2 separate regions of the Homo sapiens genome follow, and region 1 is linked to region 2. Evidence: fine-mapped expression QTL. A gene starts in region 2. The other region holds a variant in brackets. All regions are shown on one strand. Distances are between the middles of the regions. Region 1 overlaps HK2 (hexokinase 2). Region 2 holds the start of HK2 (hexokinase 2).

Region 1 (4,382 bases), 40 kb before region 2:
ACTAGGTGGCACTGTTTTCTTTCATAATTGGTCTTTCTGACTAGAACTGAGAGGAAACCAAGCCCTGGTGATAATTCTTTTTGACAAAAGGCCCATTTCTGGGTGTTTGAGAAAGAACCTGTGTCTTAGAGGAGGCACATGGGCCTGCTGCCACTAACTAGGATGAGCCCCAGCGAGGAGGAGGCCCAGGACTGAGATGTGGAAGGGATTCCAAGGTTACCTTTCCGAGAGGAAACCCAGGCCTCCAGGAAGCAGCCTGCTCAAGACCCAAGGCCGAGTACAGCAGCATCAGGGCTAACTGAGAGCTGGCAAAATTGTGAAGATGACAGCGCGCATTTTAAATGTTAGTGCACCCACACAGGCAGAGCTTCAGGAGAAGGAAACCAGCGTGGATGGGAGCCTGGCTTCAACAGTAAGGAACTCCGTGTTGCTAAGTTTTTATTCTAGTTTTTAAAAACACTTTGTTCCAGTCAACATTTGGAAGATACTTACTTGGAAATATATTAGAGGGGACAAAAATTGTCTGTAGTGACTTCAGGGCTACCATGGATGACAATTTGGTGGGTGTCAAAGGATAAGCCGGGGGTGTGCTGTCATGGTCTGGCTGGCAAATTTGTCTTTTGACATTTGAAAGGGCCTTTAGTTCCTCGGAATGACTTGGGTGTGCCTCATTCATGGAGGCAGGCACTGAGTGACTTTTCAGCTCATAAACCTCTCATCAGCCATGGCAGACACAACCAGTATGATCCTCAGAAATTTCAAGTAAAGGACTCATTTCAACATGTGAAACAAGCTTGTGACTTAGATAAATAAACCATGCTTTGACAAAGCAAGGACTCTCAGGCCGGGCGCGGTGGCTCACGCCTGTAATCCCAGCACTTTGGGAGGCCGAGGAGGGCGGACCGCCTGAGGTCGGGAGTTCGAGACCAGTCTGGCCAGCATGGTGAAACCCTGTCTCTAATAAAAATACAAAAATTAGCTGGGCGTGGTGGCAGGCGCCTGTAATCCCAGCTACTCAGGAAGCTGAGGTAGGAGAATCGCTTGAACCCGGGAGGCAGAGATTGCGGTGAGCCAAGATTGCGCCATTGCACACCAGCCTGGGCAACAGAGAGAGACTCTGTCTCAAAAAAAAAAAAAAAAAAACGAAAGCAAGGACTCTCCTGGGTTACCCACCACTGACTTGATTTATAGGGTTCAATTTTCCTGTCCAAGTAGAGATCTGCACGAAAAGCTTTTCTACAACAGTCACAAGACCAGAGATGATCTGTATTGCTCAAAATATTTTGCAACTGCTTCAGACCTTGAAGCAATCCCTGTTTCAAGATCTTTCACACGCACATTTGGCAAATGTTTGTGAGGGTGAAATAAGGTTTTGTAAGAGATAAAAGCAACTAAAAACAAAGGCAGGCCAGGCTGGAGAATACAATATTCAGGATCCAAAATGCTAGACGCCCCTCCTCCAATCCATCCCAGGACATAGTTGGGCCAAGGTCCAAGTGAAGGAGGCCAAGGAAGCTCCTCAGCCAATGTCTCCAGGGGCCATGGGTCTGCCTGCAGCTGCAGCAGGAGGCCCTGGGACCCCAGGGAGCAGCAATGAGCAGCCAGCTGTCAGCCTGTCCTCTGGGTGGTGATGGAGTTGGAGCTATGAAAGGAGCTTTCAGAGACCCCAATCTTGGCCACCTCAACACAACTTTCCTTAGGTGGCTCACAGTTCCCATGGACAATTTACAAATAGAAGGTGGAAAGAAAGAGCAGGGCCACCCACTTACACTCAGAATAGAACCTTCCAAAATGACTCCTGTGAAGGAAACACATTATTAGCTATAATCTGGTATATCCGCTTGCTCTCTGTTTTAGATCCTCTCAGCAATTTATAGTCACAGACATTCCTATGACCAGTGGCCACCTTGGCAAGCTTTGGGGATGTAAGACTGTAAAGAAACAACCCCCTGGCCCCGACCAGCCCCAGACTCAGCTCCAGGCCCCCGCCAAGCCCACTCGCACAGGAAGGGCCTACTCACAGTTGCTTTCCCGGGTTCAGTGAGCCCATGTCAATCTCCTGGTCAAACTCAGTGCGAATGTCGTTGAGCGAGCCATCGTCCCCGAAGGCCCCCCACTCCATATTGATACACATCCGCCCCTC[A/G]TCGCCTTCCACCATGTCGATGTGGCGCATCTCTTCCATGTAGCAGGCGTTGCTGCCCGTGCCTGCCAAAACAAGGGACGGCTATGCACACGCCTGCTCCGGCCCCTTCCCACCCCTCTTCCCTCTTATACTACTGTCCCGAGACTGCCCGGCCAGGATGGCTGGGATTTCTCACTGCAGACTCTGGGGGCATCACAATACATGGTCTAATCTTCTGCCACCCCCAACTCCATGAGTCCCTGCTCGGCTCTCCAAAGTGACTGGACCATTATCTTCTAATATGAACTACAAAGGAACACCCAGCCCATGGGCCCCTTCTCCCTTTCCAGCCCACACCCCCATCCCTTGGCCAGCACGGGCCCTTCATGCACGGTGTTCACTCACCCACAATGAGACCAATCTCACAGTTGTGGTCATCATAACCACAGGTCATCATGGTCCCAACTGTGTCATTCACCACAGCCACAATGTCGATATCAAAGTCCTGTGGAGACAAATGGGAGGGCTCTGACCTTCATCATCACAGAGGGCGACTTTCCTAACACCAGCTATATATCACTCCTCCTCCTCCTCCTCCTCCTTCTCTCTCTCTCCCCCCTCCCTCCCCATAACTCCTCCTGTGATAAGACTTTTAATTCATTCTCTCTCTGAGCCATTCCACTCCCATGTCAACATCATTCCAACTTTCTTACTTGGAAATCACATTCAAGTCTTCTTCAGGTTAAGAACTAAAGAGCTTTTCTTGTGCCAAGGCTAAGATTATTTATCCATTTGATAATCTAAAAACCCCCAAAGCAGCAGATCGCATACAAAATTATTGAGTACATGTGTCAGGGAAAAGAGAACTCTCCTTAAGCTCCACGTAAGCAAACAATGATGAGTCAAGGACACTCAGGGAGTCTTCAGGGTGGACCCAGAAAAGCCCACAGACCCCAAGCTCCTGCCACCCCACTCACCCCTCTCCTCTGGATGGCCTTCCGGATCAGAGCCACAACGTCTCTGCCTTCCACTCCACTGGACTTGAATCCCTTGGTCCATGAGACCAGGAAACTCTGGAAAGGGACCAAGAAGTGAATATTGATTTCCCACTAAAACTGAAACTCACACCACACCCCTCAAACCTCCGTCATTAGCAGAGACCTCTGCCACTGGGGTAAAGTCATGATTGAATTTGTGTGTTACTTCCTGGCTAGCCTAGGAAAAAGAAACTCAGGACAACTGGCACTATAAGACACAGTCATGTGCCGCATAACAATGTTTCAGTCAGTGACAGATTGTGTATACTGCGGTGGTAACAAGATTATAATAGAGCTGAAAAGTTCCTATTGCCTAGTTAGATACACAGATATCACTGTGTTACAATTGCCTATAGCATTCAGTACAGTAACATGCTATACAGATTTGTGGCCTAGGAGTTAACAGGCTGTCCCATACAGCCTAGGTGTGTAGTAGTCTATACCATCTAGGTTTGTGTAAGTGCACTCTATGATGTTTATACATAAGTGAAATCACCTAATAAAGCATTTCTCAGAACATATCCCCATTGTTATGCAATACATGACTGTACTTGTGTCCTTACATCATTAACTCTCCAAGTATCTTTCTTCCAAGGGTCTTTATCATAACACTTTAGACTGGGGAGTTCCTGATTTCTCATTCCTGTTTCTGTGGAGGGGATAAGGATACTGTGCAATGTGTGTGGGAGAGAGGGTGATAAAGGGCACTCCCAACCCCCCAGATTTCTTCACCAGCCCCCCCATCGACATACACAGTCACCCAGAAAGGCAGAACTTCATCTCCACAATCCTCCAGTGCTACCACCACCACCACAGCAGGTGGCTCAGAAGTCCCTCTCAGCCCTCCCAGCCCCAAGAGTGAAGCAACAAGTGTCTGAGGAGCCCATCTTACCTCGTCTAGTTTAGTCTGGTGGCAGGGGAACGAGAAGGTAAAACCCAGTGGGAGCTTCTTGTCTTTGATTTGTAGCTTATCCATGAAGTTAGCCAGGCATTCGGCAATGTGGTCAAACAGCTAAGGATACATGACACAGGGTGGTGAGCAGAGAGGTCGAACAGCATAGAGATTAAGGGCATGCACTTCAGGCTCAGCACGTAACTAGCTGAATGTGTGCAAAACCCATATCTCCTCTGATATCTTCATTTGCTCACCTACAAAAAGGGAATTATAACTGGACCTGTCCTCATGGAGTTATGAAAAGGAGTACATGAGTCAATACATAAAG
Region 2 (4,382 bases):
AAACTGAATCAAGGTGCAGAGCCACATCCCAGGAATTAGAGAATAACAGCCATTTACAAACAGTAAAACCCAAGTAAATCAACCGCCTCTGCTCGCTCCTCCAGACTTGAGGCTGGGTAACTTCTGCTTTTCTTGGAGGTTCACGCGCCATCACTACATTAATATGCCTCCTATGCCCTCGGGACCGCCAGAATGGGAATATGAGCAGGTTGTCGCACAGAACGGTAATGGCAAGACATTTTCCCAAAAATGTGTTCCCATCAGATATTGAAATTCCAAGTATGTAACTGAGCAACGCTCCGTTGCCTCACAGCTCTTAAAACAACCTCCCTCCAGCTAATCCCCTCCCAACTTGTCCCCTACCTCAAATCGTAGCCCAGGCCCGGGCCAGGAGCCAATCCCCTAATCCCGGGCATTTCAGAAACTCAATTCTGAGCGCGCCCCTGGCCCTGCCCGTCCCCGGCCCCGGCCCCATCCCCACCCCCATACCCCGAGGCGGGGAATGAGAGCTTCCCGGCTTGGCCTGAGGCTCTTTCTTATGTAAATGACCCGGCCGCGGTGAGCGCTCAGCCATAGGGAGCTGCGGAGCCAGGTGGGAACAGACAGGTCGAGGCTTAAGGAAAAAAAAGCTCGTTTTCGGAAGGACATAAATCTCAAGAATCTCAAGTAATCCAGGAACGCGGCGCGTTGGCCTCTCCGAGTAACTTTTAGGGCAAACCAGAAAGTAACAACCAAAGTCCTCCCCTTACTCAGAGGCAGATCCTGAGGACACGAGGCTGGGCGGTCCCGAGGCTGATTTGGAGGGGCGGGGGTTAATGGGGGACGCCCCTCGCCGAGCCTCAGTTCCGGGCGCCACAGTTCCGGGGAGGGGGCGCGGCGGGCGGAGTTCCTCTGCCCCTTTCCTACTCCTTCCCGGGTCAGCTTCTCCTCGAGCCCACCCCCGCAGGGCCGCGGGGAAGGAGAAGGGAACCGCTCGTCTCCTACACGCGGTCCGCGAGCGCGGACGGCCCCCGGCGGCCCCACGCGGCAGCGGAGCAGCCTCCCGCAGCCACGATTCTCTCCACGTGCTCTCGCCGGAACTCGCGCTGCAGAAGGGGGCTCCCTCCCACGTGGGCGCAGCAATCCCTGACTACCTGCGGGGTGACCCGCCCCTCCAGTAACAGGGAAAAAGGGACTGGGGGAGAGAGCGTGAGCGCGTGCCGGAGCTCAGGGAGGGAGGGCGCCCGGCGGAGCGCGACCTCGGCTCCCCGCCCGCGCGCACTCGCCGGCTGTGCTTAGCGGACGTGGCTCCTGGCGCCCAGGAGTGTCCCGGCTGCCCAAACTTTTTCCGCTCCCAGGCCCGGAGTAGGGAGGAAGCGGGTCCCCGCAGGGTCGAGGAAGAGACTGATGGAGGCCAGACCACTTTGCCAGAGCCCAGCCTGCCGCCCCGCCCGCGCTGACTTACCTTCTGCACTTGGTCATGGTTGAGCTCCGTGAAGAAGTAGGCAAGCAGATGCGAGGCAATCATCCTGCCGCGGCCCGACGGCGCAGAGTTGGGAAACCGAGGCGGAGACGCGAGAGGGGAGGCGGGCGGCGCGGTCCGACTGCTTTGTGCTGGGGCTCGGCTGCCGGGCCGGGAGCTGGGAGTCCGGACGGCGCACAAAGAAGGCTACCGGCGAGGGTGCGCCCGGCTGGCGGAGGGCGCGGGTCTCCGGAGACGTGATTTTGGCGTCACAACTGCTAGAAGGCGCCTCAGTTCTCTCCTGGCGACGTGTCCGGTTGTCCCACGTCAAGGCGCTAACTTCGGCCACAGGATCACTGAGGCTCAACTTGAGAAGAATCTCAGCCCGGCTCCACTCGGGCAGTGGGACCTCTCCGATTCACAGGCGCGTGGCTCGGGCCCGCGGATTTTCTTAGCTGGGTGACACGATGTTGCCAGCGGCAGCCCGGGACTCCTGCGCCGGAGTTTCATGCAACAATGTGGCTTATTGAGGGGCTGCCGGCCCGCGGGCCTCCGGATCAGTGACGTGCGCACGCCCATTGGCTGCGCGGGGAGGGTGTGTGCGCCCACGGACCGCCCGCCGCCGTGGCGCAGCCAATCATCGCTCACGGCTCGCGGGCGCGGCCGCTCAGACACCGGAGCCGGCAGCCTGGGGAGGCGCGCCGGGGGCGGGGGGCGGGGGAGGGGCGGGGCGCCTGAGATGGGACGTGTGGTCCGTGGCTAAAGGCTGGGACGGAAAGGCGCATGAGCCACCGCCGCGTCAGGCTCGGCTATGGGTGGGGGGAGCGTGATCGCGGACCCGGGGTGTGGGGCGACTGGAAAAACGGGCCTCTGGACCAGCACACGCCCTGTGCGGAGAGACACTGTCTGGCATCTCGGGATCATGTGAGGGGCTCCCACTGCCCAGTCACACGTCTAAAGCATCCTAGTTCTTACCTATTGTAGCACGGCCGGAAAGTGAGCCGCCTTAGCTGCTGATTGTACTAGAGCAGGCAATACAAGAGTCGGCCCATCCTCAAAACCACTGATAGGATGTGAGTTTCACTAACCCCGTTTTACAGATGAGGAAATTGAGGCAAGGCCAGGGCTCACACCTGTAATCCCAGCACTTTGGGAGTCCAAGGTTGGAGGGTTGCTTGAGACCAGGAGTTCATGACCAGCCTGGGCGACATAGTGAGACCCCCATCTTCCCAAATAAAAATAAATAAATCAGCCGGACATGGTGGCATGTGCCTGTAGTCCCTGCTGCTCAGAAGGCTAAGGTGGAAGGATAGCTTGAGCCCAGGAGTTCGAGGCTGCAGTGAGCTATGATCATACCACTGTACTCCAGCCTAGGTGACAGAGGGAGACCCTGTCTCAAAAAGAAAAGAGACTTACACGAGGTCACATAGCTAATAAGTGGCAGATAGGGAAGAGAACCCTTGTCCCTCTACTTTAAGGCCCTATTCGCTTGCCCCATTATCCCATGCTGCCTCTCTAAGAGCCAGAGAAGTAGGAGGTAGAAAAAGAGCATCTCTGCAGCTCTGGGACTGATGATGTGAATGAACTGGGTAGATGGTAAGTGTGTAACTGGGTGATCTTGGACATGGGATGGGGTGGGTGAGGAGGCTTACCAATGCTGAGAGGAGTGGAAGCTCCAACCCCAGCTAATGCTAGACACCAGACTCCAAATTTAAACACACAGTGGAAACTGGCAAGAATGAAATACTGACTTCAATACAGATTTCAAGAGACATGACATTAGCACTGGTGGAGAATGGCAAGCCTAAGGTTGGAAAAGGTTCAGGGAAGGAAGATGAAGGTCTGCCATGTTCTACTGAGGAGGAGTTTTTCAAACAGTGGGGTGCTGTCTGCAATGTGTACAGCCTTAAAATTATTATATAAGTAATCAATACTCATTGTTGAAAAATAATATATGGATAAACAGGAAAAATAAACAAAAATCATAATCCATCTAGCCTCTCAGCAAAACTTCCTTTTTTTTTTTTTTAAAGCAGGGACTCGATATGTTGCCCAGGCTGGTCTTGAACTCCTGGGCTCAAGCAGTCCTCCCACTTCAGCGTCCCAAATAGCTGGGATTACAGATGTGCTCAGCAAAACTTCTTGAGAACTATGTACCCTTCTAAATGCACGTCCTCAACCCTCCTTCCCTATACTCCACACAGAATTGAGCTCAAACTGCTTTTGTCATAGTCATCATAATGACCTACATGTTGCCAAATCTTGCATTCTCTTCTCTTCCCTGCCCTTGTCTTACTCCTTCTCTCAGGGATGTTGAGGACAGTTAATCACATCCTCCATCTGGACACACCTTCCTCTCTCAGTAAGAGCACCAGTGCTCCACTCTGAGGGTTTCTGGCTAACCTCACTCCCCAGGCTCCTGAGTCCCTGTTTGCTCTATTGGTAAATGCTGGGGTATTCGGGGCTGCCCTCCACCCTCTTCTCTGAACTAGTTACAGTTTCAAACTCCCTGAGGAGAAACTAACTTCCTAGCCCCATGACTGTTATATCATATGCATGCTGATGACTCACCATAGTAAATCTACAGCGAGGTCCTCTCCTGGAGTTGCAGGCTTATTTCTCCAGCTTGCCATTTGTCATCTCCACTGAAGTGACTAGCATATCACACTTAACATGTCCAAAGCTGAACTCAACTTTTTTTCCCAAATCTTTTTCTTTCCCAGTTGTCTCAGCAAATGGCATCGCCATCCACCCTAACTCGTCTTCGATTCCTTCTTGCCACTCACCCTCACAGCCAGTCAATCCATCAGCAAGCAGTTAATTCCACCTATAAAACAGACCGTGCATCTGACCACTTATCTCCATGCCCTTAGACACCTCCTGAGATCTTCCCACAGAATACTGCTTGGCATTCACACTAGCATGCTTTCCTCAAAAATAC

What was found. PIP is the estimated chance that this variant, and not a neighbour inherited with it, causes the effect.
Region 1: its variant is fine-mapped to the expression of HK2 in fibroblasts (GTEx, PIP above 0.99).

The regions. Positions count from the first base shown.
Region 1 is chr2:74,872,089-74,876,470 of GRCh38, reverse strand. It overlaps HK2 (hexokinase 2), which reads right to left. Exons shown (of 18, transcript NM_000189.5): 4 at 4,052-4,171; 5 at 3,100-3,195; 6 at 2,528-2,627; 7 at 2,022-2,205. Among named protein-coding and RNA genes, the nearest start is that of LINC01291, 35 kb to the left of the region's middle. The variant A/G (reference allele first, on the strand shown) is at 2,144.
Region 2 is chr2:74,831,706-74,836,087 of GRCh38, reverse strand. It overlaps HK2 (hexokinase 2), which reads right to left and starts at 1,961. Exons shown (of 18, transcript NM_000189.5): 1 at 1,445-1,961. The coding sequence starts at 1,507. HK2-DT (HK2 divergent transcript) reads left to right here and starts at 2,101. Exons shown (of 1, transcript NR_185897.1): 1 at 2,101-3,433. RefSeq lists enhancers at 520-589, 367-1,243 and silencers at 820-1,069, 1,990-2,219, 2,400-2,469.